7 linked regions of the Homo sapiens genome follow. The protein of the gene in region 1 interacts with the protein of each later gene in a biochemical or structural test. Each region holds a gene or a part of one and is shown in the gene's direction. Other genes may lie near its edges. The genes, in order: PTH1R, CASK, LDB3, TJP3, PDLIM1, MAGI1 and FRMPD1.

Evidence for each region.
Region 2: the proteins of PTH1R (region 1) and CASK interact in a test that uses a peptide from one of them, tested with the Homo sapiens proteins (one large-scale study listed by IntAct).
Region 3: the proteins of PTH1R (region 1) and LDB3 interact in a test that uses a peptide from one of them, tested with the Homo sapiens proteins (one large-scale study listed by IntAct).
Region 4: the proteins of PTH1R (region 1) and TJP3 interact in a test that uses a peptide from one of them, tested with the Homo sapiens proteins (one large-scale study listed by IntAct).
Region 5: the proteins of PTH1R (region 1) and PDLIM1 interact in a test that uses a peptide from one of them, tested with the Homo sapiens proteins (one large-scale study listed by IntAct).
Region 6: the proteins of PTH1R (region 1) and MAGI1 interact in a test that uses a peptide from one of them, tested with the Homo sapiens proteins (one large-scale study listed by IntAct).
Region 7: the proteins of PTH1R (region 1) and FRMPD1 interact in a test that uses a peptide from one of them, tested with the Homo sapiens proteins (one large-scale study listed by IntAct).

What each region holds. Positions count from the first base shown.
Region 1 is NC_000003.12:46,880,721-46,884,220, forward strand, and holds part of PTH1R (parathyroid hormone/parathyroid hormone-related peptide receptor precursor), read left to right. Parts: intron 1-341; coding exon of another isoform or gene 342-398; intron 399-1,274; exon of another isoform or gene 1,275-1,462; intron 1,463-1,528; exon of another isoform or gene 1,529-1,744; intron 1,745-2,791; 5' UTR 2,792-2,839; coding exon 2,840-2,914; intron 2,915-3,500.
Region 2 is NC_000023.11:41,514,555-41,518,054, reverse strand, and holds the end of CASK (peripheral plasma membrane protein CASK), read left to right. Parts: 3' UTR 1-3,121; downstream 3,122-3,500. UniProt on the Homo sapiens protein: Multidomain scaffolding Mg(2+)-independent protein kinase that catalyzes the phosphotransfer from ATP to proteins such as NRXN1, and plays a role in synaptic transmembrane protein anchoring and ion channel trafficking.
Region 3 is NC_000010.11:86,678,511-86,682,010, forward strand, and holds part of LDB3 (LIM domain-binding protein 3), read left to right. Parts: intron 1-856; coding exon 857-1,008; intron 1,009-1,571; coding exon 1,572-1,647; intron 1,648-2,925; coding exon 2,926-3,293; intron 3,294-3,500. UniProt on the Homo sapiens protein: May function as an adapter in striated muscle to couple protein kinase C-mediated signaling via its LIM domains to the cytoskeleton.
Region 4 is NC_000019.10:3,725,384-3,728,883, forward strand, and holds part of TJP3 (tight junction protein ZO-3), read left to right. Parts: intron 1-3,040; coding exon of another isoform or gene 3,041-3,049; coding exon 3,050-3,097; intron 3,098-3,220; coding exon 3,221-3,330; intron 3,331-3,500. UniProt on the Homo sapiens protein: TJP1, TJP2, and TJP3 are closely related scaffolding proteins that link tight junction (TJ) transmembrane proteins such as claudins, junctional adhesion molecules, and occludin to the actin cytoskeleton.
Region 5 is NC_000010.11:95,281,004-95,284,503, reverse strand, and holds part of PDLIM1 (PDZ and LIM domain protein 1), read left to right. Parts: intron 1-3,500. UniProt on the Homo sapiens protein: Cytoskeletal protein that may act as an adapter that brings other proteins (like kinases) to the cytoskeleton. Involved in assembly, disassembly and directioning of stress fibers in fibroblasts.
Region 6 is NC_000003.12:65,426,919-65,430,418, reverse strand, and holds part of MAGI1 (membrane-associated guanylate kinase, WW and PDZ domain-containing protein 1), read left to right. Parts: intron 1-278; coding exon 279-899; intron 900-3,500. UniProt on the Homo sapiens protein: Plays a role in coupling actin fibers to cell junctions in endothelial cells, via its interaction with AMOTL2 and CDH5. May regulate acid-induced ASIC3 currents by modulating its expression at the cell surface.
Region 7 is NC_000009.12:37,730,954-37,734,453, forward strand, and holds part of FRMPD1 (FERM and PDZ domain-containing protein 1), read left to right. Parts: intron 1-30; coding exon 31-150; intron 151-1,350; coding exon 1,351-1,487; intron 1,488-2,519; coding exon 2,520-2,646; intron 2,647-2,776; coding exon 2,777-2,872; intron 2,873-3,500. UniProt on the Homo sapiens protein: Stabilizes membrane-bound GPSM1, and thereby promotes its interaction with GNAI1.

The sequences.
Region 1 (3,500 bases):
TGTCTTGAAGAAGAAGAAGAAGGAGAAGGAGAAGAAAGAAGAAGAAAGTAGCAGCAGAAGAAATACATGGGGAATGCACCTGGGAGTGCAGTCTGGAAGCTGGATGGGCTTGAGCCAGCAGAAGGGTGGCTGCAGCTGGATCCTAGGCCTTAGGACTTGGGCTTGACAGATTTGCACTGAGGGTTGGAGGGCAGGTTTGCAGGCTCCGAGGAGCTCAATATCCACAGGCTGAGTCTTGAGAGCCCCTGGAGCCCATGGGCCAGGATGCCCACCCTCGTGGAAACTAAACAGTAAAGTTAACATTGCCCTTGAATCAGCTGGCCAACCTCTCCATTTTGCAGATGAGGAAACTGAGGTCCAGACAGCCGAAGAGTGGTAGTGTCCAGGACACACAACTGGTAAGCGGGCAAGCACAGGCTGTTGCTTAGCCCAGACTCATTTCCCAGGGCCTCATGCATTCGCTTCCTCCGCGATCCTTAAAGCCCTGCGCTCCAGGCATCCCCAGCCCCTCCCTCTGCCTCAGTTTCCCCACTTGGTACCGGGAGGTGGTAGGTTTGGGGTCGAAGGGCCCCTCCTCTTAGAGCTCCAGCGTGCCCTCCCCAGCCAAACACAGAAATCCCGCCCCGTTCAGCCCCAACCCCCGCGGACTCCTCCTTGCCTTCCCCTAAGTCGAGGGTCCCAGGCGGCCCGGTCCGAGCCGGCCGATAGCTTTTGGGAGTGGGGGTGGGAACGGGGGAGGGAGGTGAAGCCTGAGAGTGGGTGTCTGGATTGAGCCCCAGGTCTGGCAGCCTCGAGCCTCCGGGGTTGGGGCTGGGCAAGCTGGAGAGGCCCGGCCAGCAGCTGAATGGGTCGAGACTCGGAGACCCGGACCCGAAGAGACGCTGGGCAGGGAGGGAGCGGGATGTGTGGCTGCAGACCTGGGCGGGGGTCGGGGCTGGCCTAGGGCCGAGAGGAACGACAGGCCTGGGATGGGACTGAGGGCAGGGGACGAGGCGAGGGTGGGGCTGGACGTGGGGGAGGGCGGCAGCAGCCAAGCCGGGCTCGGGGCTGGCAGCCGAGCGGCCTCCCCAGGGACCCCGACCCGGCCCGAACGGGAGCCCAGTGGACTGACAGCGTCGCGGCCGGGGGCGCGCGGGGGTACCGGGCAGCCTCCTCAGGGGATTCGCCCATGATGAAAGAGGGCTCGCTTCTCGGCTCAGGGTCTCTATTCGCCAGCGGGGGCCGGATGATCAAGGGAAAAAAAATTTAAAAGCCCGTGCTTTCCAGAAGAGAATGAAGCGGCGGCGGCGTCCCGGGTTCCCTGCTCGGGTCTCGATGTTACAGCTGCCCCCGCCCCGTCTCCCCAGCACTCACATCCCGCCGCCGTAAGACTCCGGGCCTCGGCCTCTAGCGCAATGTCCCGGGGCGGGGGGCGGAAGGCTCCTCTCGGCCTCTCCACACTCCCGCGTCGGCGGCTGCGGAGGGGGTGGGGGCGGGAGAGGCCCGGGAGGGCGCGGGGGAGGGAAGAGGCGCCCGGCCGGGGAGAAGGGGAGCGGCAGACGCCGAGGCGAGGGATGCGCGCGGCGGGCGGTGGCTCCGAGCGGCGGCCGGGCGGGGGGCGCTGGAGGCCAGGCCGGCCAGCGGGGGGTATCCCGAGAGCTCCATGAAGTCCCCCCGGGGCCGCGGACGGGGCGCTGGCTTGGGGAGGCTGTCGGGGGGGCCCCGACATCCATGGCAAGGCGGGGGCCGCGGCGGCGCGCTCGGAGTAAGTCGGGGCTGGGGACCCGCGCCGAGGGGAAGTGGCCGGAGTCGGGGAGGAGCGACTCCGGGCCTGGCCGGAGCAGCCAGGCTGCTCTGTCTCGGTGTCAGTCGGCGGCGCCTCCTCGGAACCCGGGGGAGTCGCCAGCCCCGCGCCGCTCGGCTCGGTGGCTTTTTTGGAAACTTGCAAATGTTTTCGTAGAGAGAAAAGGGGGAGGGAGGGAGCGAGGGAGTGACCGAAACGGAGCTTGGGGCCGCTGGAAGAACTGAGGCCAAGGCCGGGGGAGCTAGAGACGGACTGACAGACAGGCAGACCGACAGAGCGTCGGGGCCGCTGCGCGCCCGAGCCGCACAGGCGCAAGCGGGGCTCTGGCCAAGGATGGGGAAGGGGTGCGGGAGGCGGCTGCCGAGGGTCTGGGATCTCAGGAGGCCGAACGGCCGGGGGCTGGCGGCCGGAACACCTAAGGGCTCAGTGTGGCTGCAAAGTTGAGATCGCACCCCCTAACTGCACGCCCCGCGCGGCTCAGAACGCGCCCCCTGCCCGGCCCTGACTCCCTACGCCGAAAGTCGCGGAGCTAAAAATAACAGTCCTGCGCGCCCCCCGCAGACCGCGACCCCGACCCCTCCCCCGCCCCCTCCCCCCACTGGGCGTGGGGCGAAGCCACAGCTCCCATTTCCCCAAAAGAAAAAAAAAGAAAGAAAGAAAGAAAGAAAGAAAGAAAAGGCGGCGCGGGAGGGGGGCGGGGGGCGGGCCGGGGGCGGGGGGCCCGGCCATATGGATGTGATTTCTTCGCTCCGAGGCAGACGGGCCGCTCCGCAGCGCTCGGCGCCCGCCCGCCGCCCGCCCGGCCTCCGGCTCTCCCTCCCTCCCTCCTGTCCCTCCCTCCCTCCCTCCTTTGCGCTGCTCGCTCGCTCGCTCGCTCGCTCGCCCTCAGCGCATGGGCCCCGCGCCGGGCCCCGGGGCCTCGGGCCGCCGGGACGCCGGGGTCCCATAGGCCGGGGCGTGGGCGGGGCGGCCAGCCTGACGCAGCTCTGCACCCCCTACCACCACCAGGGCCGGCGGCGGCGGCTGCCCCGAGGGACGCGGCCCTAGGCGGTGGCGATGGGGACCGCCCGGATCGCACCCGGCCTGGCGCTCCTGCTCTGCTGCCCCGTGCTCAGCTCCGCGTACGCGCTGGTGAGTCCCCCGCCGCCAACACTCCGGGACAGGCTGCGGGCTTACCCTAGGGTCCGCGGGATAGGTCTAAGGCACGCAGTCTTGAGTTCCCCCAGTAGTTCGAACTTTGGGTGAGAGTCCCCTCTGATCCAGGATCCTGGGTGCCTGCTGTCTCTGGGATGTCTGGACTGTGGGTTCCAGCTGCCTGAAGCCTCCCTATTTCTGAAGCCTCGTTTGGGGTCCCAAATCTGGCAATTTGTGGTTGAGTTTTCACCATCCTCTGCTTCTGTGAGCACCATGGCTGTTTCTCCCTGGAAGATGACAGTGTGACCCAACAGAAGGCTGGGCTTTGGCCCTGCTGCGTACTCCCACAGACTTTGCTTTGGGGACCTCTGTTTTCTGCAAGTTTTGTTGCAGTCCCGGACACAGGGAATGTAGGTCTGAGGTCAGAATCATCCAGGCAGGGGGTAGGATTTAGGGGCCCCCTCCAGCCCTCACACACACACATGCACACGTCTGGCTTCACCCAGGGTAGAAGCTGTTTCCCCAAGGAGGTGGGTGTGGTGTGGCATGGAGAAGGGATGGAGTTCCCTGAAGGAGACTGACC
Region 2 (3,500 bases), on another chromosome or scaffold:
CACAAGCACTGTAGCACTCATCCTCAGTGGCTTTATACGTCCTCTGAGAAGCACACAGGCAGGCATCATTCTTGCCATCATTCCGATGGTGAAATCCCTGCATGCAGAACTCATTGACTTCTCAAAGATGTTACCTGTTCCATTCCACTAATACATGTCTTCTCTAAAGCAGTGTCTTTATGACCTAGCTGCATATACTTACATTTCTGAATTCAGAGTAATTTCAGTACATTGCTGCTGCTGCTGCTGCTGCTGCTGCTGCTGCTGCTGCTGCTGCTGCTGCTACTGCTACATTACAATTGTCCACTAAGCAATCAGAGAAAATTGCTAAAAGCTTCTTTACTGCTTCCATTCCATCAGCAGAACCTTTTTTTTTCTTTCTTTCTTTTAAAGACCAGAATGAATGTTTAGAGTACTAAATCTTATTAGTGGTCAATTGAAGTATTGGAGAGCCACATTTTGAAGGTTCTCTCCCCCACCCAACTCCATTCCCCACAGCAAGAAAGGGAGTGTTTTTATATGTTGAATTCTTTGTTAAAAAGATGAAATGTCCTGATTTTCCAGTCACAAGACAGTAATTACTTTGCACATACAGCATATCCCATTTTAATGCTAAAAAGGGAAATGTCACTCAATTTAATTCATCTGGAAGTTTCCCAGTGTCAAGATAACATTGTAGCCTTTTTAAATGCAATTAAATGTATCTCTTGTCAGGTGAGATGATTTAAAATCTTTGCTCAGAGAGGAAAACAAATGGTTGACCTACTTCTTGCTATTTGCATTCAGAAGGCATCGTCCCAGCCCATCCTATTGGTGGCAGAATATCTAAAGATGTCGCAAAGTCCCCCACTGCAGTAGAAATGCAGGAGGTGTTCCTGTTCCCCGTCCAATTCCTTCTTAGGCTGCTAGAGACAGCCAGTGGGCCAAGCCTTCCCCTGTGCTCCAGGCAGGCCTGGGCTGCAGCTACTGTTACCTTTTTACAGCCTTTGATCTGATCGCTGCAGAGTTCTTTTGTTTTTAAATCACTTGTATTTGTCTCTTCATTAAGGCTTCAAGTTTATTTCTTGAAAAAGTTTAGTCAATTGAACCACCCTCCAGGAAGATTCCCAGCGTGGAAACTGCCCCTGAAAAACAAGGCAGCCCAAAGCCAGCTCTCTTTTGTCCCCCACTGATGTCATGTCCTTTTTTTTTTTCATTTCAGGCCAGTTTCTTAACTTGGGGCAAAGAGAATGTGTTGCTAAAGCTACCAAGAAAACTGCTTGATTAACAAATTCTTAATAGAAATGCCTCCCACACTGTCTCTTTGAAAAGAGAAGGCACCTTGGAATCGGCATTCCAAAACCAAGCTCCTTGTCATCCTCATCCCTCCTCCTTCTTGCTTCCTATTATCAAACTCGTGTGTGTTTCTTGTTTTCTCAGAACTGAACACAGCCTCCTAATTCCATCCTCTTGACTAGGGCTTACAATACTGAGAGCGATTACAGGCTGTAATAAGTTAAAGGTCCCTGAGCGTGGCTTTCTTGTTCTGCGCCTCTAATTAATTCTTCTATTAAAAGATGCTTTCCTTCTCACTGCAGCTTACAGAAAGGCTACAAGCTTTAATCACAGATCATTTCATTTGCCAGAGCCTTTCCTTTTCTAACTCCTTTAGAAATAAGATTTCCCTCTCTGTTTGGAATCTCTGGATACAGGACTCTCCTCCAAGCTCATGGCTTGATTGGCTTTGCCTGTGCACACACACATCAGTTTGCCTTAAACTTGGAGCTATGGGGAGTCCCAGATTTTCCAGCTTAGTGGGTGAAGTTTAGCTGTCACCTACATCCAGGAAGTGGGGGAAAAGGGAAAAAAAGAGGATATTCACCACCATGTTCCCATCCGGTCTTTCCCCTGCCTTGCTTTGTGCAGCAGGTGGGCAGACAGAGCCCACAGAAACAGAAGTAGAAAGAGGGCCGCACCATCTCTGGGGCCAGCACTCCTAAGTCTTAGCTCTTTGTGGGAATAGAAAATCCTGAGCTCCCACCACCTCTCGTCTGACCCTCCATCAACTCCCTCGAACCTGTGCAAATGGACTGAGCAAAAGAAAATGGAAAGAGATGTTTGTCACCACACAGGAGACCTCCTTTCTGGCCCCAAGCACAACTCCATCTCTGCGTATGCTCAGAAACTCAGAATTTAGCTGCTACTTATGTGTTAGCTCCATTCTCTCTGGTGTGTGACTGAGAGAACACGCCAGTGTTCTTACTGACAGAGGCTTAGGGGTGACCCTCTCTGGACCCAGAGGAAGTACAACCTCTGTAGCGAGAATTGTCCTTGGGAACAGAAACAGGCATTCCTCCACAGTGAGTGGCTCCCCCTATTTTTTTTTTATTTGGAAGAGACCAAGAATTGGGGGAATTGATTTCCAGTCTTAGCTGTTTCCCGGAATGTCATCTGTGCAGGCAGGTAGGCGGCTGCCGGGTGCAGCAGGCAGCGTGACTGATGTGAAGGCCGCCCAATCCTCACGTGCTAAGACCCGAGTATCGTGTTTAATTGCAGTGTAGGCACGTCGCCATTCAAACTCAGTTCTGGGGTGGTTTTGCATAAAGTTTTGCCAACGTGTTCTTTTTTCTGTATGTATTATTGCCTTTTTATAAAAGGTGTTGAAGTATTGTCTCAGTGATAAAAAGAGAGAGATGTTAATGGTTGTTGTATATTTCACCGTATCCAATTGTAAGTATTTGCAGGGTACAGCAGAGCCTTAGCTTGCAAGAGCGTTTGTGCAGGAGGTGTCCCTCAACACCCAGGAGCTGAAGGGATTGGAAAGGTTTGGATTCTTTGTAAATGTCCTGCTTTTCTTTCTCTCTGTGTGTATCTATTTACATGCCTTAGCACACGCCCTCCCATCCTGATCCCTTTGCCCTGTCGCCGGAACAACCAGAATGCTGGTGCGCTGCCGGCACAGTACAAGTTGATGAAACCCTAATCAGTTATCTTGTGTGACAGGGGAAGAAGAGAAACTCCATAGTATTCCTTGTAGAATATACATACCTGTAGGATGCTGTGTAATGGGAAACCATAGAATTGGGCTTTTGTCATTTCAAAGTTGGAGAAATGTATGAATAAAATGTATAAAACATGAAAAGGCAGTTGTCTCCTCAGATTGCAGGCCAAACAGCTTGGGGACAAACAACAGAGGGTTAAAAGAAGAGGGATGGCCTGATTTCTAAAGGCCTCTGCAGAGTTCATCCACACAGTTAGGCCTCAGACACCTTCCCACAATGGTTGGGGTGGGGTGGGGGTGTTGCAGAGGGACAGCTCCTGGCCCTGTAAAGGAGCACGACCCAGGCTCCTGGTGCCCATCCTGCAGGTTTCAGTCTTCAGCCATGGCTGTTAACAGACGGCATCCTGCAAGCAGTTCCAGCTCAGTTGCTTGCATTTGGATGCAGGCTTAAAATAGCTTCATCTTAAAAAAAAAAGAAAAAAGAAAAAGTCTAAGTTGTGACATCTCCTAGAAATAGAAG
Region 3 (3,500 bases), on another chromosome or scaffold:
TGTATTTTTAGTAGAGACAGGGTTTCACCATATTGGCCAGGCTGATCTCGAACTCCTGACCTTGTGATCCACCCACCTTGGCCTCCCAAAGTGCTGGGATTACAGGCGTGAGCCACCACGCCCAGCAGATGCCTGCAAATTTTTAAGAGACAGAGTCTCCCTCTGTCACCCACGCTGGAGTTCAGTGGTGAGCGATCATAGTTTATTGTAACCTCAAACTCCTAGGCTGGAGTGACCCTCTCACCTGCCTCCTGAGTAGCTAGAACTACAGCCATGCACCACCACACCCTGCCAAATATTTTTATTTTTGTAGAAACAGGGTCTGGGCTCCTTTGCCTGGGCTGGCCTCAAACTCCTGGCCTCAAGCAATTCTCCTACCTCAGCCTCCCAAAGTGCTGGGATTATAGGCATGAGCCACCATGTCCAACAGCCTCCAAACCTTAATGGCTCAGAACAACAAAAGTTTCTCATTCATGCAACGTCCAATACAGTGCTCCTTAATCATCTCTCCTCCTCTCCATGCCCTGCATTCAGTCAGTCAACAAGCAGAGAGTGTGCAGGATCACAAGGATGGTTGCTAGAGGCAGACCTGGAAGGAGCATACATTGCTTCCACCCTCATTCAGTTGGCCAGAGCTAGTCCCAAGGCTGCAGTCAGACACAAAGCTCTAAGCAATGTGGTAGTCATGTGCCGGAAAGAGGAACTAGGCTTGGTTAGCAGCTGGTACTGGCCGTAGCGAATGAAAAACACAATGACGGCTTCTGTTGAATACTCCCGGGTGACTCTTCCCCAAGGACTGGCCTTTCCTCAGGACCACCTTCCTTATGCTCACCCCCCACCTCCACTATCCAATCAGATCACACCAGGCAGCAAGGCAGCCCAGTCCCAGCTCAGCCAGGGTGACCTCGTGGTGGCCATTGACGGCGTCAACACAGACACCATGACCCACCTGGAAGCCCAGAACAAGATCAAGTCTGCCAGCTACAACTTGAGCCTCACCCTGCAGAAGTAGGTGGGAGCTCTCCAGAGCAGGGGGCGGAGGTTTGGGTGTGGGCATGGGGCAGGGGCCAAAAGAGGGATTGTCCCATAGCAATTGAGTGGGCCCCGCCCTGGGCTACAAAACTGTGCAGGAAGATAAGGACAGCCCTGGGCCAGAGGAATGAACAGGCCCAAGTCGCTGTCAAGCACCTAGAGGCAGACATTACTGCCTCACTTTACAGTTAAGGCAGAGATGGTGGTCCTGGTGCTGCCCGTACGTGGGCCATTGGTCCTGGAAGGCAGGTCTTACCTACTTCCACTTTGCCCAGGCAGCCCCCAGTGACGTAGCAGGGGCCCATGGATTCTGACCAAAATGCCCAGGGGCCATGATTTCTCCATCCTCGTCGGGCCCAGGGCCTTCTTGGGGAGATCCAGCCCATGGGGTGGACAGTGGATCTGGGGCCCTCTGACTCAGCTATCTCTGAGAGCTGACTCTGGCTCTCTCTTGCTCTCTCCTCACCAGCCCTGCCCAGGCAGGAGCTTCTGGCCCCAGGGGCAACTTCCTCACCTGGTCTCATTTCTGGTTTCTACAGATCAAAGCGTCCCATTCCCATCTCCACGACAGCACCTCCAGTCCAGACCCCTCTGCCGGTGATCCCTCACCAGAAGGTAGGTGCTGACTGTGGCGGCGGGGTCCACTCAGCCCTGGTTCCTGGAGTGCTGGCCCTGGCCAGCCTGCCTGGTCTTTGGCTGGCCCAACTGGGATGAGGCCGTGGGATCAGCCCTGCCCCATCCCTGCCCCTGCTGCAGCTGACCCTGGGGAAGTGAGGCAGCCCCTTGGGAGAGACTTTCAAGCCCCTGTTGAACACTGGATGTGGGAATGAATGCCTGCCTGGGTGCAAGCCACCTCCGCTATGCCTCGTGGCTGGGCTGATAGGAAGCCAGCTTGGGCAGCAGTGTTCCCAGGAGAGGGGTCACCCTCCTGGCCAGGCAGGGGACGAGCGTCCAGGCTCTGACCTTCATTTGCCAAGGGGGCCACCGCTGGGTGACTGTGGCTGAGGCCCAGCTTGACGAGGACCTCCAGGTGTGGAGGGGCCTGCTGGCCTCACCCAGATCTCTCCCTCTGGTTTCCACTTCCCCACCTGCCCCTCCCAAGTGCATTCCCCTGTAGCCCTTAGGACGTGCTGGCAATGGCAGGCACAGGGGAGAAGGGAGGCCAAGCCCTGGCTCCAGACCTCACCACTGCCTAGGCCCTTCCCAAGGCCCCGCCAAGCAGCTCAACCCCCGAGGGCTCCCTGCTCAACTTCTCCCCCTATGTGAACTGATAGTGACCCCACCTGTCCAATGGGGCAGATTGGGCAGGGCAGTGGGGAGAGGGGAGAAAAAGAGGCTGACAGGGGTGGGGTAGGTCACAGACTGGGGAAGTGGGTGGAGGGCTGCTTGGGAGATGCTTGCAGAGGTAGACTGAGGGGCCCAAATGTGAGCTACCCAATTCCTCAGCTTCCCTCCTCACCTCCCCACCACCTGCCCACAACCAGCCCAGGAACTTCATCTCACTGGCAGTGTGGGGTCAGTGGAGCAGGAGGCTGGGCTGTGCCCACTGGGCACCCACTCTCAGGGGCAGGGGGAACAGACACAGAACGGGCCATCCCCTGACCCCTACACCCACTTCCTCGGGCCCTGGGGGCAGGAAGCTTGGCTTGGCTTCCATGCAGGGCTTGGCACTCTGCCCAGCTGGATGCCAGCCTCACGCCAGGCCAGGAGCCATGTGCCTGCCTGCTCCTCCACCAGTGTCCTCCCCTCCAAGTGCTGCGCCCAGGCGCTCTGGGCTTCAGGCTGCGGGGCTCGCGCTAACACATCTGTTTCAGGTCCACGCAGGAGCGCTGGGACGCGTGTGGCCTCTAACCGCTCTCTTCTCTCTCCCCTGCATGGCCTGCCCTGTGCCAGGACCCCGCTCTGGACACGAACGGCAGCCTGGTGGCACCCAGCCCCAGCCCTGAGGCGAGGGCCAGCCCAGGCACCCCAGGCACCCCGGAGCTCAGGCCCACCTTTAGCCCTGCCTTCTCCCGGCCCTCCGCCTTCTCCTCACTCGCCGAGGCCTCTGACCCTGGCCCTCCGCGGGCCAGCCTGAGGGCCAAGACCAGCCCAGAGGGGGCCCGGGACCTACTCGGCCCAAAAGCCCTGCCGGGCTCGAGCCAGCCGAGGCAATATAACAACCCCATTGGCCTGTACTCGGCAGAGACCCTGAGGGAGATGGCTCAGATGTACCAGATGAGCCTCCGAGGGAAGGCCTCGGGTGTCGGACTCCCAGGAGGGTAGGTAACGGACATACAGCTCTCCACAGGTGGCCTGGGCCACCTGGGTCCTCGGTGCTCGGCAGAGACCTGGTCAGGTGGTCAGAGCGAGGCACTGGCCCCAATCCAGCCAGCCCCGAGCCCATGAGGTCAGCAGTGATCCTGCGGCATTTGCCATGAGCCGGGCATGCTAGCGATTTATACAACCAACCACGCTGGGGTGACATG
Region 4 (3,500 bases), on another chromosome or scaffold:
TTTTAATCTCACCTCTAAAGTAGGAATAATAACTGTGCCACTTCCTAAGGTCACTCTGAGGATGAAATGAATGGGTCCACATCAAGCGCCTGCTTGCAGCCAGGTTCAAGACAGCCTGACCAACATGGTGAAACCCCGTCTCTACTAAAAATACAAAAAGTAGCTGGCTGTGGTTGTGGGTGCCTATAATCCCAGCTACTCGGGAGGCTGAGTCAGGAGAATAACTTGAACCCAGGAGGTGGAGGTTGCAGTGAGCCGAGACTACGCCATTGCACTCCAGCCTGGGCAACAAGAGCAAAAAACCCCATCTCAAAAAAAAAAAAAAAAACTACACAAGGAGAAAGTCATTATTTGGCCACCACCTCCCCAAGGCTCCTTCTGCTTTTTGCTTTTCAGGCATTGAATCTGTACCCTTTTCCCAAACCACATCCCTGCAAGACAGGGCAGCAGTGCCATTTCACAGATGGGGAGACTGAGGCTGGGAGAGGCCCCGCCATAGCTAGCACGGGTGGGCAGACTTGGGATTTGAGTCCAGTCCTGAGCGCTGCCCTGGCTCCTTCAGAACTGCAGAGCCCTGCCCTCTGCTCTGTTTCTCTCCCCTCCACCCGCCTTCCCACTCCTGGAGATCAGGAATGCTGGCCTCGCTAGAGACGCTGGAGCTTATAAGAAAAGGCACTGGAGCGCACCAATGGGGGGTGCCTGGGCAGAGGGAATCACACACCCGCTGTGCCAAGCCTAGAAAACCCGCCCCGGGGAGGAGGAGGAGTCACTTCTACAAACTCCCTCCCCACTCCCTCCACCTGTCCCCTGCCTGGGGAGCAGGGCATGGTGCGTGCTGGCAGGAGGGAAGGGAGGGTGGAGGCGTGGCCAGGTGACCTTGCACCTGAGTCTGGTGTTCTCATTCATGCCATGGACATGAAAATAACAGAATCTGCCTGGTGTGGAGGCTCACGCCTGTAATCCCAGCACTTTGGGAGGCCAAGGCGGGCGGATCACTTGAAGTCAGGAGTTCAAGATCAGCCTGGCCAACATGGTGAGACCCCCGTCTCTATTAAAAATACAAAAATTAGCTGGGCATGGTGGTAGACACCTGTGATCCCAGCTACTTGGGAGGCTGAGGCAGGAGAATCGCTTGAAACTAGGAGGCAGAGGTTGCAGTGAGCCAAGTTGGCACCATTGCACTCCAGCCTCAGCAACAGAGTTTTTTTTGTTTTTTTTTTTTCTAAGTGGGAAAGCCCAGGTGGGAGGATCATTTGAGCCCAGGAGTTCAAGAAGAGTCTGGGCAACACAGCAAGACCCTCCTGTCTCTATAAAAATAGAAGTTAAAAAATTAGCTGGGCATGATGGTATGCACCTATAGTCCCAGTTACTCAGGAGGCTGGGGCAGGAGGATTGCTTGAAGCCAGGAGTTCGAGGCTGCAGTGAGCCATAATGGCTCACACTTGTAATCCCAGCACTTTGGGAGGCCAAGGCTGGAGAATCACTTGAGCCTAGGAGTTTGAGACCAGCCTTGGCAACACAGAGAGACTCCATCTCTACAAACAATAAAAAAAATTAGCCGGGCATCGTGATGTGTGCCTGTGGTCCCAGTTACTTGGGAGGCAGAGGTGGGAGGATCACTTGAGCCTGGGAGTTCGAGGCTGCATTGAACCGTGATCACACCACTGCACTCCAGCCTGAGTGACAGAGACCCTGTCTAAAAAAAAAAAAGTGTGGGAGGGGGGACTTCATGGCTCTGTGCCTCAGTTTCCTCATCTGTAACATGGGGATAATTGAATGCACCTTTGATGAATGTATTAAATGAGATAGTACATGTAAGGCTGGGCGCGGTGGCTCATGCCTGTAATCCCAGCACTTTGGAAGGCCAAGGGGGTGGATCACAAGATCAGGAGTTCGAGACCAGCCTGGCCAACATAGTGAAACCCCGTCTCTACTAAAAATTCAAAAAAATTAGCTGGGCATGGTGGCACATGCCTGTAGTCCCAGATACTTGGGATGCTGAGGCAGGAGAATCACTTGAACCTGGAAGGCGGAGGTTGCAGTGAGCCAAGATCACGCCATTGCACTCCAGCCTGGGCAACAAGAGCGAAACTCTGTCTCAAAAAAAAAAAAAAAAAAAGAGATAGTACATGTAAAGCACCTGGCACAAAGGAAGTGTTTCATTCATTCACTCATTAATTCATTCAGCAAATCCTTCTTGAATCCCTGCTGCAACTCAGGCGCTGTTCTAGGCAGGGAACTGAGGGCTCAGTTTTGGACAAAGACAAAAATCTCTGCCCTCTGTGGGTGGATCAGTTGAGGTCAGGAGTTTGAGACCAGCCTGGCCAACATGGTGAAATCCCGTCTCTACTAAAAATAGAAAAATTAGCCTGGCGTGGTGGTGGGCACCTGTAGGTGCCCAGCTACTCAGGAGCCCAGCTACTCAGGAGGCCAGTAGGCAGCCAGCTACTCAGGAGGCTGAGGCAGGAGAATCACTTGAACTTGGGAGGCAGAGACTGCAGTGAGCAGAGATTGTGCCACTGCACTCCAGCCTGGGCAACAGAATGAGACTCCGCCTCAAAAAAAACAAAACAAGGCTGGGCACAGTGACTCACCCCTGTAATCCCAGCACTTTGGGAGGCCGAGGTGGGTGGATCACTTGAGGCCAGAAGTTAAAGGCCAGTCTGGCCAATGTGGTGAAACCCTATCTCTATTAAAAATATAAAGATTAGCCAGGTGTGGTGGTGCACCCCTGTAATCCCAGCTACCTGGGAGGCTGAGGCAGGAGAATCGCTTGAACCCGGGAGGTGGAGGTTGCAGTGAGCTGAGATCGTGCCACTGCACTCCAGCCTGGGCGACAGAGCCAGACTCTGTCTCAAAAAATGAAACAAAACAAAAAAACAAACAAAAAAACCTGAGGCCCTGAGAGAGGTAGTAACTTGTCACAGGCTCCAAACACAGGCCTGTCAGAGCTGGACTCCCCACCCTGAGCTGGGGACCCCCAAGTGCTCAGATGAACCTGTGTGGCCTCATGCCCATCTTCCCCGCTCCCCTCGACCAGGTGGCTGACATGGAGGAGCTGACCATCTGGGAACAGCACACGGCCACACTGTCCAAGGTGAGGCCTCCCTCTCCCTGTCTGGGTGCCAGAGAGTATGGCGGCTTAGGCCCAGCTCAATAGAGGGGAGACCCTTTACCCTGGGGGAAACAGCAGCTCTTCCTTCCCCTCATCCTCTCTCAGGACCCCCGCCGGGGCTTTGGCATTGCGATCTCTGGAGGCCGAGACCGGCCCGGTGGATCCATGGTTGTATCTGACGTGGTACCTGGAGGGCCGGCGGAGGGCAGGCTACAGTGAGTATCCAGGCAGCTGGGTTCTGGCGGGGGAGGGCACGTGGAGAGGAGAAACCAGGCCAGGCACAGTGACTCACACCCGTCATCCCAGCACTTTGCGAGGCTGAAGTGGGCGGATCACCTGAGTTCAGGAGTTTGAGACCAGCCTGGCCAACATGGTGAAACCCCGT
Region 5 (3,500 bases), on another chromosome or scaffold:
CAGGCACCTGTAGTTCCAGCTACTCAAGAGGCTGAGGCAGGAGAATTGCTCTAACTTGGGAGGCGGAGGTTGCAGTGAGTTGAAATCACGCCACTGCACTCCAGCCTGGGCAACAAGAGCGAAACTCCATCTAGAAAAAAAAAATGCATACAGATAGATTAAATATGGTTGATGCAGCAAATAGTTTGCACCCATTTCTTTAAAAAAATAATAAAAAATACTTATGCTTCTGAAGCTGAGCATACCCATACCATATAACCCAACAGTTCTCCTAGTTAAATAGTCAATAGAAACTGGGTCCACATGAGTGCTAAAGGACAAGTTTGAGAATTTTCCAAGCAACACTATTCATAATAGCCCCAAATTTGAAACGATTCACATGTCTAACAGCAATAGAATAGATAAGTAGTGGGTGTAATTATATGGTATAAAACATCACAGCAACAAGAGTGAAGAAATTACAACTATGCACAGTGACATGAAGGAGACACACACACACACACACACACACACACACACACAGAGAAAAAGGCCATACCTAAGAGTGAAGAGTAAATACTGTGTGATTCCAGTTACATAAAATTAGACAGAATTAATCTACAGTGTTAGCAGTCAGGATCATGGCAGACCTTTGCCGGAAGGTCAGTGACGGAAGGCGGGCACAGGGAGGTTTAGCAGTTCAGGTAATGTCCTCTTCTTTATCCCATGCTGTTTCCTTGGGTGTGCTCTGTATGTGAGAATTCAATCAGCTGTATCGTTACCATTTGTGCTGTATACATGTCATCCTTCAGTAAAGGTTACATAGAAGCCCGCGTAATTGTTTAAAAGATCGGACAATATAAACCTACAGAAAGCATAAGGTAAAAGGCTTCCCCAGTCTTACTTTACAGAGGTAAACACAGTGAACAGCTGGCTGCAAACCTTTCCAGACTTTTTCCGCACACGTAGCATTTCTAAAACCAAATTACTATATCTCAGTGAACTATTGGGACTTCATTGCTTTGTGCTTTCTGCCTTATTTTTACTGTAACAAATCAAGAATTAAAGACATCTTAATGTCAAGGGAAAAATACATTTTTGATATCTGCTAGATCTAGTTCAAACCTTATCTTGTCCATTTACTAGCTTGTATGTTCTTGGACAGGTTAACCCCTGAAAATTCAGTGTCCTCATTTGCAATGTGGGAATAATAGCGCTTGTCTTCAAAGGTTGTGGTGAGGATTAAGATGATATATAGAGAGAGCCTAGTGGTACTATTAAACTATTAAATATTAAAAATATTAATGGTAGCTACTATATATTGAGTGTTTATTACGTGCCAGGCATTGTTCTGAACTCTTTACAAATGCAGTCTCATTTAAGCCTTCCAGCAACCTGATGAGGTTGATGCATTATAAATTTCATTTGATAAATGAAGATACTGAGTCAGAGAGAGTAATTCCCTCAAGGTTTAGTGAGTGTTTAGGCTTTGGGTTATGGGTGGTAGCTGTTGGAGCTATTTAAAAGCACGTAGGGTTCATAGGAGCTTGTTTGGAAACTTTTGAGGAACTCGACGACTTCTTGACGGAGTCTCGCTCTGTCGCCTGGGCTGGAGTGCAGTGGCATGATCTCGGCTCATTGCAACCTCCATCTCCTGGGTTCAAGTGATCCTCCCACCTCAGCCTCCCAAGTAGCTGAGATTACAAGCGTGCGCCATCACACCTGGCTAATTTTTTGTATTTTTAGTAGAGATGGGGTTTCACCATGTTGGTGAACAGGCTGGCCTTGAACTCCTGACTTCAAGTGATCCGCCCATCTCGGCCTCCCAAAGTGCTGGGATTACCGGCATGAGCCACCACGCCTGGCCTCGATGACTTCTTAAGAATTTAGTCAGAGTATTCTATTTGGCTACCTGTTTTATTATATTCCTGTCTGAGAAATGGTGGTCGGTCTTTCAGACTGAGAGAGCAGCACGTCTCTTTGAACTGTCACCCCTTAGCACTAATAACTTCTTTTTGCACCATGCATAGTGTGAAGCTGGATTAAGGTGCAACTTATCTACAAGCATCTACCCTATTTTATTGCCTCATTTCCCTGAGAAAATGGTTATAGACTAACCAAGAACATTTTAAAACAGTGTTATGTTTTCAGGTCACCCTGTGTAAATGCATACAGCTTCTGCAGCCATAATATGGCTGTGAAGTCTGTGCCACAGCCTCGGCTCACAAACATACTGAGTCAGAAGATTCTGACTAAAGAGAGTTCAAATTCCACATGTAAATGGCATCCTACAGAGCTGGGTCCTGCTTTATCCCCAGTTTAGAATCTGTTAAATTTGTACCCAAATACCTTGACACAACTGTTAAATCAGCGGAGATTATGCTTAAAGGCATGTAGCATTGCGATTGAACTTGAATCTCACATTTCTTTATCCCAGTTGTATATAATTATTACTATCGTTATTTAGGCTGTCTCTTTCACTTACTTGCAGGCTTGTCTTAGGCTTGTCTTTCACTTAGTTACACATTTACAATATTTAAAACACAAGAACACATATAAGATTTAACAAAAAATTGGAACATGGAAGAGGAAAGAGAGAGAAGTGCCAGGAACTTTAAATCAGTTGGTTCTGTAATTGCACACTACATTTAGCTGTGAGTTTTCTGGCCAAGGGAAAATAGGACCCACGTCGAGTTATTTAGATATCTTGTTTGGAGTTATTATACTTCTACTGGTTGGACGCAGTGGCTCATGCCTGTGAAACTAGCACTTTGGAAGGCCGAGGTGTGAGGATTGCTTGAGGCCAGGAGTTCAAGACCACCTTGGCCAACACAGTGAGACCCCATCTCTATTTAAAAAAAACAACAAAATTACTTATGCAATGCTTCATTTGCATAGCATTTTCAGGGGTGTTAACCAACATTACAGGGGCTGTATTTTTTTGTTTGTGTTTTGTTTGAGACAGCATCCTGCTCTATTGCCCAAGCTGGAGTGTAGTGGTGCTATCATAGCTAACTGCAGCCTCCACTTCCTCCCAGTTTAAGCGATCCTTCCACCTCAGTCTCCTTGAGTAGCTGGGACTACATGCCTGGCTAATTTTTAATTTCTTGTTCAGACAGGGTCCCACTGTGTTGCCCGGACTAGTTTCAAGATCCTGGGCTTAAGCAGTCTTCCTGCTGTGGCCTCCCAAAGTACTGGGATTATAGGCATGAGCCATCCCTGCCTGGCCTATTTTTTTTTTTTTAAGTCTGTTTTGGTAAGAGATAGAGGAATACTATTCTAATGGATATTCCTTTCAAGGGCTTTGTATGTATTTTATAGGAGTATAAGTTCTGCCCTTGAAGGTGTTTCTGGAGGAGCTGAGATTTTAGGGTCTAATTACTTTTTGTCTACCTGATGACTTTAACTTCATTCAGGGAGAGAGTTTAAGGGGAAAAGATAGTCATAGTCATCATCTCTCTTGGTGTTTCCAAACCTGATGAGCATTAACATTTTCTGGGAAGCTTTAAAAAGGTATGGGT
Region 6 (3,500 bases), about 19 Mb from region 1:
TGAATTCTAAACTTGGATTTCTGCAGTGAGATTTTTTTTTAGGAGAAAGCTCCAATGTTCTGTGAGTGATTATTACATTCTCATTAGCAGGGAAGACACTAGGTGCTGAAAGAACACTTTATTAGCTGTTAAAATCAGTAATAGAAGCACTTTATACCCTATAGTATCACACCCACATGCAGTTTCAGTTCAGCTTTATGTTAGTGGGAGATATTATAATACTGATGACAATTTTCTGGGTGCTGTTTTCTTAACCCCCACACTCTTGCCTTCTACAGGGGATGTGATTGTAAGTGTGAATGACACCTGTGTTTTGGGACACACACATGCTCAAGTTGTGAAGATCTTCCAGTCCATCCCCATTGGTGCCAGCGTGGACCTTGAACTCTGCCGAGGTTATCCATTGCCTTTTGATCCAGATGACCCCAATACAAGTTTAGTGACCTCGGTAGCCATTTTGGATAAAGAACCAATTATTGTGAATGGGCAAGAGACCTATGATTCACCAGCTAGCCACAGTAGTAAAACAGGCAAAGTCAATGGCATGAAGGATGCCAGGCCAAGCAGCCCAGCGGACGTGGCTTCAAATAGTTCTCATGGTTATCCTAATGACACTGTTTCTTTGGCTTCCTCCATAGCCACTCAGCCAGAACTCATAACTGTTCATATTGTCAAAGGGCCAATGGGCTTTGGTTTTACTATCGCAGACAGTCCTGGTGGGGGTGGCCAAAGAGTGAAACAGATTGTTGACAGCCCAAGGTGCCGAGGCCTGAAAGAAGGGGATCTCATAGTGGAAGTTAATAAGAAGAACGTGCAGGCCCTAACTCACAACCAAGTGGTGGATATGCTGGTTGAGTGTCCTAAGGGAAGTGAGGTCACATTGTTGGTGCAACGAGGAGGTAAGTAGGGTTGTTTTGTTCTTTGAATTTTTTTTTTATCCCAAATTCATTGCTTAACTTACTCATCTTCAGATGACCACTGGGGGCTTTTTAAATTTATTTAAATGTTTCAAAATGCCTACTGATTTCTCCAAATACTAACCTCTTTAGCATAAAAATTGTGGTTTATACATTATGACAGACATATGCAGTTAGAATGATACCTTAAAACAGAAATCAGATTTTGCCTTTTTAAAATGTTAAGATTTAAAAACCTAAGTTGGGTGTGGTGGTACCCACCTGTAGTCCTGGCTGCTTGAGAGGCTGAGGCAGGAAGATCACTTGAGCCCAGGCATTTGAGTCCAGACTGGGCAACATATTGAGACCCCATTCTCTAAAAAGTTTTTTTATATATATATAAAAAATAATAACCTTTATCCTTTAAATCTCCTGAACTTGGCCTGCATAGCCTGCAAAATGTGGCTATGGTCACTCCAAACTTGTCTCATGTTCCTCTCCTCCATCTGATGGTGCTTTAGCCACACTGGCTGCTTTTATGGAGCTCCTTTAATGCTTCAAGCCTTTTCTTGCCTCAGGCCCTTTGTATTTACTGTCCGTTCTGCCTGGAATGGTCCTTTCCCAGCTCTTCCCAGCTGGCTCAGTCCCATTCAGGTCTCCTTATGAGAGAGGGCTTCTCCCATCACTTTATCTAAAGTAGCTCCCAACACTTCCATATAATCTTTATCACAGTTTTTCATAACCTTGATCATCATCACCTTTTTAGCACAAGACGTTATTTCATGCTTTTATTTATTTTTCATTATTTGTCTTTCATTAGAATATAAAGCTCCATAAAGCCAGGGCCCATGTGTGCATGTGGACAGCTGTTATCCCCAGCATTTAACACAACACCTGACTCCTTTTAGGTATTTATGAATGAATAGGTATTAAGTGAATAGGTATGTGATTATTTCTATTTGGCAGAAACAAGAGGTCTGCTAATCATATTAAACACTTCCCTCCACATGCTCGCGTTTAGTAGTTTAGGATCTCAGAGATCTGGGTTATTCTAAATCTCGAGGCATTAAGCTTCCTCCTTTCTCCTTGAGTCCGTATCCCACCCTCTGCCTCACCAGAAAACACAGGACGTCACACTGAGCAATACTTTCCACCATATTGAAGTGTCTTGCTCCTGGAATATATACTTATATGTGATTAGTCGTGACTGATAGTTTTACACAGTGGGCCTGAGAATGGCTGTTTCCCTGATCCTTGCTACCATGATTTGTTTCATGAACAACATATTCAGGCCTTTTGAAAAGAGATCAAGAACCAGACTTTGACTTCCTTTTGGTTTGTTGCAACAGGAGAGCTCATTTGTGTCACAGCAGCCAGATTCTCATGTTTTCATGAACCTGTGTGTTCTGCGATCAGAATGGCTGGGGTCATTTGAAGGAAACCCAAAATACAGAGTAGCTGTCTATGTGAATTGAAATGCTCAATGAGCCTGGCTTAGGCAGTTATAAAAGGCATTGTGCAAATTTTATTTTTTTTAAAATGTCATTTCCACCAACTAATTTTCAAGTCTCTTCTTGTACCTAGATCACTTGACTGCTCAGAGAACTGGTTTTAAACAGTAGCCAAGATGTATGTAGTAGGAAATGACTTGGGTATAAGAACGATTATGACAATAATGATGATGGTGATGATGAAACCTGGCACTTATAGAAGAATCAGTGATACACAAAGCACTTTCATACCTGCACGTGCCTCTCCACTGATATTTGTCACTTCCCTGTGAGGTAGGAAGGTGCCACCCCACAGTAGTTCTGAGCTGTTCACCCTGGCTCTGTGGTTTCCAGTCCAATGTTCTGCCCTACTTAACTGAATAACACTGATTTTTGTATAGTTGCTTAATACTGAGGCTGACAGCCTGGAAACTTTCAAATAATTCTTGGTACATCAGGTGCACCTCTGATTCAGCCACTGCTCATTTGACAGACACAAACCACCTTGTTCTCCTAACTCATCTATCCTCTTTCTCATTTCTGTTATTGATGTGGTTTATTATCCCATTAGATTCACTTCTAAGGAGACCAAACATAAAGTTTCATTATAGCCAACTAACTTACACATGTATTAGAACCATATTGTAATGAATTCGCCTAAGCCAGCAAACAACTGATTATAGAAACGTACTCCTTGATTTTATTTTTTATTTTTATTTTTGAGACAGGGTCTCACTTTGTCACCCAGGCTGGAGTGCAGTGGTGCCATCTCAGCTCACTGCAGCCTCAACCTCCTAGTTTCAAGCGATCTTCCTGCCTTAGCCCCCCAAGTAGCTGAGACTATAGGTGCATGCCACCACTCCCGGCTGATTTTTGTATTTTCAGTAGAAATGATTTCTCCATGTTACCCATGCTGGTCTCGAACTCCCGCGCTCAAGGGATCCACCTGCCTCGGCCTCCCGAAGTGCTAGGATTACAGGCATGAGCCACCACACCTGACTATACTCCTTGATTTTAAATATGTTTGCATTCTCTCTTCTTAATTCCCAATGCCATCTTCTCATTAATGGTGTTACATTTTATAACATTTATATGAAAAATCCGGAATATATTG
Region 7 (3,500 bases), on another chromosome or scaffold:
GATTAATAGTATCTCCCTTACCCATCGCAGGTGGTAGAAAGGGAGGAGTCACATGACTACCGCTGCCTCTTCAGGGTCTGTTTTGTTCCCAAGGACCCCCTGGACCTCCTGAAAGAAGACCCCGTGGCCTTTGAATACCTCTATCTGCAGGTGACTGGGTCTGTGCTTCCTAAAATAACAGTGGTTGTTCTCAAAGATGGTGCACTGGGTGATTTTGAACGTGAGCTCGAGGCCATTAAACAACTCCCTGGTAGGGATTCTCTTTATCTGAAGGAGAATGGGCCTGATCATCGCTCAGAATTCCCTTTTCCATCACTGAGTTGCTGTTTTAGCAGGTGTGCGATATCAGAATGAAATTCAGGCTCAGTCCTCAATGTAGATGATACATTTTCTAATACCATTTTAGGATCTTTAGAATTACAGTTTTTATTGCCAAAAGGGGCCTTAGTGCTTTAAAACCTCGTTTTAGAATGATGACACTGAGTCTTGGAAAGGTCGTGTGATTTGCCTGGGTCACTCACTTAGTGGCAGAGCCAAAACCTGGTTCTTGATCCGTGGCCTGGTGCTCCCCCTATTCTACCTCCTTAGATGAGAGTTATGATGCCATTTTTATTCTGATGAAAAATAATCATTTGGAGCCGGGTGCGGTAGCTCACGCCTGTAATGTCAGCATTTTAGGAGGCCGAGGCAGGTGGACCACTTGAGGTCAGGAGTTTGAGAACAGCTTGGCCAACATGGTGAAACCCCGTCTCTACCAAAAATACAAAAAATTAGCCAGCCGTGGTGGCACACACCTACAGTTCCAGCTGCTTGAGAGGCTGTGGCAGGAGAATCACTTGAACCTTGGAGGTGGTGTTTGCATTGAGCCAAGATCATGCCACTGCACTCCAGCCTGGGTGACAGAGCGGGATTCTGTCTCCAGAAAAGAAAAAAAAAAAGAAAAAGAATCATTTGGCAGATATCACCATTTTACAGATGAGATAACTCAGACTAGGTGGATTGGACTGCCCCAAGTCTTACAGAAATGGTGGCAGAAAATAATAATAATAGCAATAACAACGCCATCAATACTTTATATTTGTATAACACTGTGTGCCTTATACCTGCTTTCATATGCATTATCTAATTTAAGTCTCACAGAAACCACATAAGGTAGATTTTACTATCCTCATTTACCAGACACCAAATGCTTGGAGAGTCTTGGTAACTTAACCAAGGTCACACAGCCAAGAACTGTCAGAGCCAGCTCTCAAAGCGGAGCTCCTGGTCCTGCTGCCTTTCACCCGAGAGAACGAGGGGACACAGTATGTCTGCTTTTGTTTCCCATCTGCTCTATTTAATCTCTTCTAGAGCTGCAGCGATGTGCTCCAGGAGCGCTTTGCTGTAGAAATGAAATGTAGCTCTGCACTCCGACTCGCGGCTCTGCACATCCAGGAACGGATCTACGCCTGTGCCCAGCCACAGAAGATCTCTTTAAAGTATATAGAGTGAGTGGCAGGGGATGGCAGCTGCATTGCATTTATAACTTGCTGGCCCCTGGCCAGGAGGGCCAGATGCCACAGAAAGCTGATAGTCACCCACCTACCCATCTGTCTGTTGTCTTTCCATCCATTTCCCTCTGCACCCTCTCTAATCTGACCTGGCTCCCCCAGATGTCTGAACCTGGCTGCTCTCTCTGGGACAGAAGCCAACTCCAGATGGAATGTCACAGGATTCCCTTGTAAATTGCCTGTTCCTGGGAAGATGTCTTGGGAAATCAGTTGCCAGCATCAGTGTTAAGCTTTTCTAGGGGTGGGAATGCCTTGGAAGTTAATTTTTCCCGTGGATATGAACCAGTTCCTATTGCATTATGTCTCCACTAGAGCAGTTTCAAGTCCTACGATTCCAGCACCTTCTGATTCTTAGCTTAGAATTGTTCTGGACAGCATCACTCAGGTTTGCTAAGCCCCTCCCCAGATCTCAGCTCTGTCCTGCCTGAGCATCAGAATCAGATGGGGAATCATATTTTTAAAAATACAGCATATCCTTGGCCCTACCCCTGATGTACTAAGTCCAATCTCTCGCAGCAGGGCCTGAGAATCTGTAGTTTTAGCAATTTTCTGGGGGATTTTGAAGCTGCTAGGCTGGCACCATGCTGAAGCTTAGCCTAGGGGATTCACAGGAGCTCTGCGTTGCCCCATGAGAGTGTCTTGTACTCTCTTGTATGCTGTCATTATTTGCCATGTATTTTGTAGTGAAAAAGATTCAGAACTCCTGCTCTGACTGATAGATGGTCACACCACACCAAGAGTAATGAGCTCCCAGAATGATCAATGGGGTTTAGTTCCTGAATGCCTGTGGGGATTTTTGTGGAGAGTGTGTGTATGTGTGTGTGAGAAAGAAAAAGAGAGGAGGAGAAAGTGGCTCGTAATTGCTGTATTATGGGAACACTAAGTACTGAATCAAATGTAATTATGCTCTTCATTAGAGCCAAGTACCCTGTAGAAATGGGCCTCCTTGTCTCCAATGTCTCATGGCAGGAAAGACTGGGGAATAGAGAACTTTATATCTCCAACTTTACTCCGAAACATGAAAGGCAAAGACATCAAGAAAGCCATTAGCTTCCACATGAAGAGGAACCAGAATTTGCTGGAACCCCGACAGAAGGTAATGAAGGTGCCTCTGCCGACCCACTCAGCTGTCGTCTGTGAAACCTTAGGAAAAACATTTTCAACACTGCCTGGATTTTAGACCAATGAATAACTCTGACTTCAAGTGTTTTTTTTTCTCTATTAAGCAACTTATTTCTGCTGCCCAGCTACGTTTAAATTATCTACAGATCCTCGGAGAACTCAAGACATATGGTGGAAGAATCTTTAATGCTACTTTAATGGTATGTATTAGAGAACTGTGAAATCCTACTCACGTAAGGGACCTTAGAGATCCTCTGAAAATCAATGTGTCTTTTAGCCTAAAATTCCTGAGGACTCTGTCATGTACTAGAATTTGTCTGGTAAACTAAATAGTACACCACTGGAAAATATTTACCACGCGTTTGCTTGGTGCTACCCCTGTGATAGATGCTAGGGGAAGCAGGGCTGAATAAGATGTGATTTCCGTCCTTGAAGGATGAAACAAGCTACCCAACAAAATGAAGCAAAGCCATGAGACAGGTTCAGGCCTATTGCTGTGGAGTTTGGAGACAGAAGGTAGCACTGCTTGCTTCAGGGTAAGTATAGGGAGGAGAAGGGGTTAAGGAAAGAGGCAAGAGGAAGCCTGAATTTGGCCAGACTTCAGTAGAGAGGAAAAGGCATTCTGGGTCAGAAGGGGATGGTAAGCAGTTCACTCTGGAGCTTTGGGTATATGAAGGTGAAGAGGAAAATTGGAAATCATGAAAGAAAAATAAGAGTGTTTGACTGCCAAGCTGAGTCTCTGATTGTTCAGAAGGGAGGAATGAGGGGTGGGCCTGAGAAGAGAAACGAGAAGCAGAAAAGCCCTCTGCTCTCTTCCCATTCTCCTGC